2 separate regions of the Homo sapiens genome follow, and region 1 is linked to region 2. A link means that fine-mapping ties the variant in region 2 to the expression of a gene that starts in the linked region. Tissue or cell type: transverse colon. Region 2 holds a variant in brackets; the other region holds the start of a gene. All regions are shown on one strand. Distances are between the middles of the regions.

The links. PIP is the estimated chance that this variant, and not a neighbour inherited with it, causes the effect. A credible set is the group of variants that fine-mapping cannot tell apart.
Region 1: IFT88 starts here. The variant in region 2 is the best candidate, but not a certain one, in a credible set for the expression of IFT88 in transverse colon (GTEx, PIP 0.62).

The regions. Positions count from the first base shown.
Region 1 is chr13:20,565,542-20,569,870 of GRCh38, reverse strand. IFT88 (intraflagellar transport 88) reads right to left here and starts at 2,714. Exons shown (of 26, transcript NM_006531.5): 1 at 2,615-2,714. It overlaps LOC105370103 (a long non-coding RNA gene), which reads left to right and starts at 2,842. Exons shown (of 6, transcript XR_941725.3): 1 at 2,842-3,195; 2 at 4,321-4,329. RefSeq lists silencers at 2,321-2,509, 2,605-3,014.
Region 2 is chr13:20,507,632-20,512,022 of GRCh38, reverse strand. The region is part of intron 2 of CRYL1 (crystallin lambda 1); the gene reads left to right. Among named protein-coding and RNA genes, the nearest start is that of CRYL1, 16 kb to the left of the region's middle. The variant G/A (reference allele first, on the strand shown) is at 2,441.

The sequences.
Region 1 (4,329 bases), 58 kb before region 2:
ATTTTTAGTAGAGATGGGGTTTCACCGTATTAGCCGGTATGGTCTCGATCTCCTGACCTTGTGATCCGCCCACCTCGGCCTCCCAGAGTGCTGGGATTACAGGCGTGAACCACCGCGCCCGGCCAGCTCATTCCCAAAAATCAGGTTATCACATGAATTATAAGGATCCTGTATATATTCCTGATACTAAACATTATATAAATGATTTACAAATACTTTCTCCCATTCTGTACATCATTTTACATTCTTTGTACTATCCTCTGAAGCACAAAAGTTTAAAAAAATTTTTTTTTTTTTTGGGACGGAGTCTCGCTCTGTCACCCAGGCTGGAGTGCAGTGGCGCGATCTCGGCTCACTGAAAGCTCCGCCTCCCGAGTTCACGCCATTCTCCTGCCTCAGCCTCTCCAGCAGCTGGGACTACAGGCGCCCGCCACCACGCCCGGCTAATTTTTTGTATTTTTAGTAGAGACGGGGTTTCACCGTGTTAGCCAGGATGGTCTCGATCTCCTGACCTCGTGATCCGCCCGGCTCGGCCTCCCAAAGTGCTGGGATTACAGGCGTGAGCCACCACGCCTGGCCAAAAGTTTTAAATTTTGATGATATACAATTTATTTTTCCTTTGGTTGCACGTACTTTTGGTATCATATCTAAGAAAGAACTGCCTAATCTAAGGTCAAGAATATTTATACCTATGCTTTTTTTCTAACAGTTTTAGCTCTTATATTTAGGTCATTGATCCATTTTGAGTTAATTTCTCATTACTTTTTGAAGATGAAAATTAACTACTATGAGGGCAAATGTCACCCACATAGAAATGGCATTCCAAAATAGCTTCAAAAGGTTATTAAAAGGGCCAGGCGTCGTGGCTCACGCTTGTAATCCCAACACTCTGGGAGGCCGAGGCGGGCGGATCACGAGGTCAGGAGATCGAGACCATCCTGGCTAACACGGTGAAACCCCGTCTCTACTAAAAATACAAAAAATTAGCTGGGCATGGTGGCGGGCGCCTGTAGTCCCAGCTACTCGGGAGGCTGAGGCAGGAGAATGGCATGAACCCGGGAGGCGGAGCTTGCAGTAAACCGAGATTGCCGCCACTGCACTCCAGCCTGGGCAACAGAGCGTGCGACTCCGTCTCAAAAAGAAAAAAAAAGGTATTAAAAGTCACTGGTAAAAGATATATAAAATATTTTTAATTAAAAGCTTTAGCTCAGATAATACTAAACCAGTGGTTCTTAAACCCAAGTGATGCTGAGGCTACTGGTCTGGGGACCACTTTGAGAACCACTATTCTGAACCATAATTTCTGATTATGAACCCTATTTAAGTCAGCTTAGTTGACACATAAGTTATAGAAGGAAGCAACTTTTAGAATGAGAAATCCTTTCTGCTAGGTTGTAACCAGATTTTTAAAAGGTTTGACTTGAGACTTTAGTTGAATAGACATCTTGTGGAACATACAAATATTAAAAGATGTGGAAAGTGAGGCCAGGAAAGTTGAAGGGAATCAAGCATGGCTAATAGCTATGGGTGGCAGAACAACTGTTGTTATACAACCCAGGGTTTCTGGATTCTCCAGGCAATTTCCAAAGCAGCTTATACATGTAACAAACTTTTCCATGTTGAAATAATCTGGGGATGATGCCACCTATGTTTAATATAAATCAAATGCTGGCAAAACCTTTTTTTTTTTTAAGTGAAAGGTATGTTTTTTAATACTCTTCTACTGACTATGGACAGTCTACTTCAAGCTTTTCCAACCCCGGCCCGCACGTGGCACAGGACGGCTTTGAATGTGGCCCAACACAAATTCGTAAACTTTCTGGAAGCATTATGAGATTCTTTTTTGCGATTTTTTTTAAAGCTCATCGGCTACCTTAGTGTTTGTGAATTTCATGTGTGGCCCAAGACAATTCTTCTTCCGATGTGGCCCAGGGAAGCCAAAGATTGGACACCCTTGGTCTACTTCCAAGAAGCCTACTGCAGTTTCTCGAAAAAAAAAAAACAAACAAAAAAAACTCACAACCAGAAAATCGGACTAGTAAAAGTGTAATTTTAGGCTTAGAAAGAATCTTGGGACAACAGTACTTCACGTTTTTGGAATGTTTCCATCTTTGTGAGGCTAAGTACCGCTTTCTGCATTGTTGTGTACTTTTATCTTCATTCCTGATTCAACTTTCATCAGGCAATTTGAAGTGCTTCACCTAACAAGAAAATTAAAGAGCGATGTGCACCATCTCTGCTGTGCGATTCCAGAGCTGGCGCAGTAATCTAACTGGGTTTTAAGTTTCCCCGTCAGGCGTGACTGGGACTTGGGACATCGCCAAGCGGTCAGCGACGCCCGTCCCAGTTCAGAGGAGCAAGAAAAGCCTGTGAGCTGGGGACACCGATGTGAGAAACAACGCCCGCGTTTCTGAGTAGACAACTCGGGAGCCTGAGGAAGAAAAGCAGGGGCAGGCCGAGTCCATCTGGGGCCCCGCCTCAGACCGCCCCGGGGCCGACAGGGGCGGGCAGGAGACGGGCGAAGAGGCCCTCGGCGGGATGCGCCACACAGGACGCCGCAGGGGCACGGCTGCCAGGGGCCCTGAGGCACTAGGCCCCAGCGCCCTTCTCCTACCTCACGCTGAGGGAAGCGGGCGACAGTTATTCGGGCCCAGGGACGACGCAGCGGTTGGCCAAAGCGCGACGCCGAGCCGTTGCCAAGCGCGGAATCCAAGGAAGCCGCTCCCACAGTCCTCCGCGCGGGGGCGGGCGGGGCCGGAAGCGCGGGGGCGGGAGAGAGCGCGGCGGGAAGGGGGTGGTGCGGGAGGCCTGGGGAAGTGGGTGGGGGCGGAGAACGGCGGGTCAGAGAGAAGGCAGCCCGGTCCCCCTCAGTGGAAGGGAGTGGCGGTGGGCGGAGGGTGTTGAGGGGACGGTGCCAGCGGCTTGCGGGAAGCCGGGCGATGCGGGTAGAACGGTGGAGGAGAGGGCAGGGAGGCCGGGGCCTCCCGTGGAACGGAACCGGGGGGTTGGGAGGCTGGGGGCGGCCTGTGTGAAGGGGGCGGGGAGGGAAAGGCTCGCGGCCAGTAGATGCAGGAGGGAGGAGGGCCTAGAGGGGCTCCGGGCTGGCGGCCTCTGTGAGGAAGGGGAAGGATATGGAACCAAGATCCTTTAAATCCTGATGAACTCATCCGTAAAGCAGATGCCCAAAGGATGATAGTAAGCTTACTGTGACATAACTCCCGGAGCCGCAGCACGAGCCTTGTGAACCTTGGAAGCCCGTTTTCCGCGCAGTCACTAACTCGCTTAGTCACCCTGTGTAAAAGTTATTCTGGGATGACACCTGCCTGGGAAGTCTCACCTTTCCCCCCACCTCCTCCTGTCTGCGTATTGTTCTGTAGCACCCCGTGCGCACCTTGATTGTAGCGCTTAAGGTGTCCGTTTTATTTACTAGACAGGGATTGAACCATTGTGTCCCAACCACCTAGAACCTGGGTCATAGTGTAAAGCTTAATCAATGTAATATAAATGGGGGAATTAAATTCATAATTGTTTAATGTTTAAGTTTTGTCTTAAATTTTAAAAGTAAATGTTGGGGATGGAGGGGAGGGACAGAGGGAGTCTAAAGACACCAGTAATTAATGAGTTTTTATAAAATAAGTAGTGTTGGCCGGGCGCAGTGGCTCATGCCTATAATCCCAGCACTTTGGGAGGCTGAGGCTGGCGGATCACCTGAGGTGAGGAGTTGGAGACCAGCCTGGCCAACGTGGTGAAACCCTGTCTCTACTAAAAATACAAAAATTAGCCCGGCGAGGTGGCAGGCGCCTGTAATAAATCCCAGCTACTCAGGAGGCTAAGGCAGGAGAATCTCTTGAACCCAGGAGGTAGAGGTTGCAGTGAGCCAAGATGGTGGTATTGCACTCCAGCCTGGGTGACAAGAGCGAAACTCCATCCAAAAAAAGAAAAAACATAGTGTTGGGGGACAATTCTCCATGGGTCACCTGCACTTTCCCGTGTTTTGTGAGCAGAGACACTGACTGCCTTTGTTCTGGAGTACTATGATAGCTGGTATTTTTTAAGATGTGATTAACAGTTAAATTAGACTTGAGTAAAGCAGTTGGTCCTCCACAAGGTGGGTTGGCCTCATCCCGTCAAGGGAAGGTCATAAGAGAAAAGACTAAGGTCCTCTGAGGAAGAAGGAATCCTGCCCCCAGACTGCCTTCAGCTCTTTCCTGGGTCTCTAACTTGACCTACAAATTTTAGGCTTGCCAGCATTATAAATAAAGTTTTGGTGCCGCAAAAGAAATAGCACTCAACTATAAAATTTTCTTTTTTCCTTCTCAGCAAGGCAAT
Region 2 (4,391 bases):
AGGACCCAAATGAAAACATCTTGAATTTTAGTTAGAGGTTTAGCACTCATGTGAGAGGACAGAACTGGAGCTGTTTATGTGGTTATTATTAACTGTGACAGCGGTACTAGTTAAAGGTGTGAGAGTGCATGAATTTACTTAATGCTGAGTGCTAAGAATGCGGAGGGCTGTTTTAGGGATGGTAGTCACGGGAACCAAAGAAAGGCTGAGAGTGAGGGAGGTCAAGGACAGGGGAAAGAAGCCATTGCAGCGTGCCCAGAAGCAAAGGCACTGGCGTGGAGCACCCTCACCGCATGGCGCGTCCCCCTGCGGTGCCGTCACGGAACAGGGTTCTGACCATCTCAGACACGCGTTAGCTGGTTATTATCCTTATTTGGAGGGTGTCCATGAATATATGACTTGAATTTGCATTTTTGTGCAACAAAAATATGCTTACTTTATTGTCTGCATTTTGAAAAGATTAATATGTAGGGTATAGTGTTAAACTATAGGCATGAAGAAATTATATACCCTAACCTGGTGTTGTTTTACACATTAAGAACTTGAACACAGAGAAGTTAAGTTACTTCTTCCATGTTGTTACAAATAGTCAATGCGAGGGTAAAATGTCAATCTAAAAAACAAAAACCTTGTCCAGGCCTGGTAGCTCACACCTGTAATCCCAGCACTTTGGGAGGCTGAGGTGGGAGGATCATTTGAGGCCAGGAGTTCAAGACCAGTGTGGGCAACATAGTGAGACCCCGTCTCTACAGAAAAAAAAGAAAAAAATAGCCAATGTGTTGGCACCCACCTAGATAGTAGTCCTAGCTACTCGGGAGGCTGAGGCAGAAGGATTGCTTGAGCCCAGTAGTTCCAGGCTACAGTGAGCTATGATTGCACCACTGTACTCCAGCCTGGGCAGCAGAGTGAGACTTTGCCTCAACATAAATAAAATAATAAAATGCAAAGCCAACCAGACAAAAATCAAAAGTAAAACAACACCGAAAAACCACTCACATAGACTGTACTGTTTTGGAAGGAAGGGGACTTGGCATTTCAGAACCAACTACCTGCCAGCCATGTTCTGTTCACTAGGGATACATAGTGGATAATGTAGACACAGTCTTTTTTTTTGCCACGGAGCTTGTGGCCTAGTAATCTTACTGTATTAAATTCTCGTAATAAACCCTTTTGCCTGAGCTCAGGAGTTGGAGACCACCCTAAGCAACATGGTGAAACTCTATCTCTACTAAAATCAAAAAAATTATCTGGGCATGGTGGCGGGCACCTGTAATCCCAGCTACTCGAGAGGCTGAGACATGAGAGTCACTTGAGCCTGGGTGGCGGAGATTGCAGTGAGCTGAGATCACACCATTGCACTCCAGCTTGGGCTACAGAGTGAGACTCTGTCTTGAAAAAAAAAAAAAAAAAAGATTCACTTGGTGTTTACACTCTATGGATTTGGAGAAATGTATACTGACATGTATCTACCCTTGTAGTATTACACAGAATAATCCCACTGCTCTCAAATTCTTCCTTTCCATCCCTCCCTTCCCCCCAACCGCTGGCAACCACTGATCCTTTTACGGTCTCCACAGTTTTACCTTTTCCAGAATGTTATATAATTGAAATCATACAGTATGTAGGCTTTGCAGACTGGCTTCTTTTACTTAGTAAAATGCATTTAAGTTTCCTCCATGTCTTTTCATGGCTTGAGCTTGAATGATATTGCATTGCCTGGATGTACCACAATTTATTTATCTATTCACCCACTGAAGAACATCTTGGGTGCTTCCAGGTTTTGGCAATTATGAGTAAAGTTGCTCTAAATTCCATGTGCAGGTTTTTGTATGGACATAAGTTTCCAACTCCTTTGGGTGAATACCAAAAAGCACAATTGCTAGATTGGATGGTAACAGGTTGTTTAGCTTTGTAAGAAATTGCAAAACTGCCTTCCAAAATGGCTGTCCTATTTTGCATTCCCACCAACAATGAAGGAGAGATCCCATTGCTCCATATCCTTACCAGCATGTGGTGGTGTCAGTGTTCTGGATTTTAGCCATTCTAATAGGCAAATAATGGTATCTCCTTGTTTTTTTGTTTCTTGTTTTGTTTTGAGACAGTCTCCCTCTGTAGCTCAGGCTGGAGTGCAATGGCACGATCTCGGCTCACTGCAACCTCTGCCTCCCAGGTTCAAGCGATTCTCCTGCCTCAGCCTCCCGAGTAGCTGGGATTACAGGCGACTGCCACTACGCCCAGCTAATTTTTTTGTATTTTTAGTAGAGATAGGTTTTCACCACATTGACCAGGCTGGTCTCAAACTCCTGACCTCAGGTGATCCACCCGCCTCGGCCTCCCAAAGTGCTGGGATTACAGGTGTGAGCCACCAAGCCTGGCCTAATGGCATCTCCTTGTTTTGACTTGCATTTCTCTGATGACATATGATGTGGAGCATCTTTTC[G/A]TATGTTTGTCATCTGCATATCTTCTTTGAGTAGTACTTTTTAATGTAAAAACATTTTTGATTAAAGGGGAAGCCTTAAAATTTTTTCTTTCTGCATTTGCTGCGACTCTCTGTGCATAAAAACTAGTTTTATGAAGGATCCTGAGATTTTGAAAAGAGAGGCCCTTCAGGGATTCTGGTCCATCATAGTGCTGGAAGTAGAAGTCTTCAGGTAGTCTTGAAATAAATTTTAAGCCTCAGTAAAAATAGCTCAAAGTCATATAGTCAGGAGAAAGAAAAAAAAAACCCTTGATAGAGCACTAATTCTAAAAACAAAACAAAACAAAACAAAAAACTATGAGGCAAAAAGATGTTTTCAGATTGAATCAATTTTTTTTTTTTTTTTTTGGGGATTGAGTTTTGCTCTTGTTGCCCAGGCTGGAGTGCAATGGCGCGATCTTGGCTCACTGCAACCTCTGCCTCCTGGGTTCAAGCAATTCGCCTGTCTCGGCCTCCCAATTAGCTGAGATTACAGGCACAAGCCACCACGCCTGGTTAAATTTGGTATTTTTAGTAGAGGTGGGGTTTCACCATGTTAGTCAGGCTGACTCCTGACCTCAGGTGATCCACCCACCTCAGCCTCCCGAAGTGCTAGGATTATATGGGATTATAGGTGTGAGCCACTGAGCCTGGCCCAAAATGTTGTTGTTGTCAGTTTTTTTTTTTTGTTTTTTTTTTTTTTTTTTTTTTTTTTTGGAGTCTCGCTCTGCCACCTAGGCCGGAGTGGAGTGCAGTGGAGCGATCTCTGCTCGCTGCAAGCTCCACCTCCTAGGTTCATGCCATTCTCCTGCCTCAGCCTCCTGAGTAGCTGGGACTACAGGCGCCCGCCACCACGCCCGGCTAATTTTTTTTTGTATTTTTAGCAGAGACGGGGTTTCACTGTGTTAGCCAGGATGGTCTCGATCTCCTGACCTCGTGATCCACCCATCTTGGCCTCCCAAAGTGCTGGGATTACAGGCGTGAGCCACTGCACCCAGCCCAAAATGTTTTTAAAAGGCATCACAGGAAATGTAACACAAACAGCTTAATATTTGGTTTTATGGAGGTGATTTAGGGAGCAATAGGAAGTAATTTATTGATAATAAAAAAGCCGTTAATTTTATAATTGTAAAGAATGTTAAGGAATTTGTGGTCTTCCTGAGTAAATTACATCTACTTAATTAAATTCATCTTTTATTCCCACATTTGTGTATTAAAGAGCATAGCAAGCTCCACTTTGGAAATGGTGGCTGCTAAAAAATGCTTCTCCTTCTGTCCTTGAGGGCTATCCTGGCTTTTCAGGAGGCCTGGACATTTATTTTATTTTATTTTTTTTGAGACCATGTCTGTCTCCATCACCCAGGCTGGAGTGGGGTGGTGTGATCTTGGCTCACTGCAGCCTCCACTTCCTGGGTTCAGTTGATCCTCTCACCTCAGGCTCCCAAGTAGCTGGGATTAGGGGTGTGCACCACCACGCCCAGCTAATTTTTGTATTTTTTTGTAGAGACAGGGTTTCGCCATATTGGCCAGGCTTGTCTGGAAGTGATCAGCTCACCTCAGCCTCCCAAGGTGCTGGGATTACAGTTGTGAACCACTGTGCCTGGCCAGGCATGGACTTTTTTTTTTCTTTTTTCTTTTTTTTTTTGAGATGAAAAGTCTTGCTCTGTTGCCCAGGCTGGAGTGCAGTGGCTCGATCTTGGCTCACTGCAAGCTCCGCCTCCCAGGTTCATGCCATTCTCCTGCCTCAGCCTCCGGAGTAGCTGGGGCTACAGGTGCTCGCCACCACGCCCAGCTAATTTTTTATATTTTTAGTAGAGACGGGGTTTCACTGTGTTAGCCAGGATGGTCTCGATCTCCTGACCTTGTGATCCGCCTGCCTTGGCCTCCCAAAGTGCTGGGATTACAGGTGTGAGCCACTGTGCCCAGCCTGGGC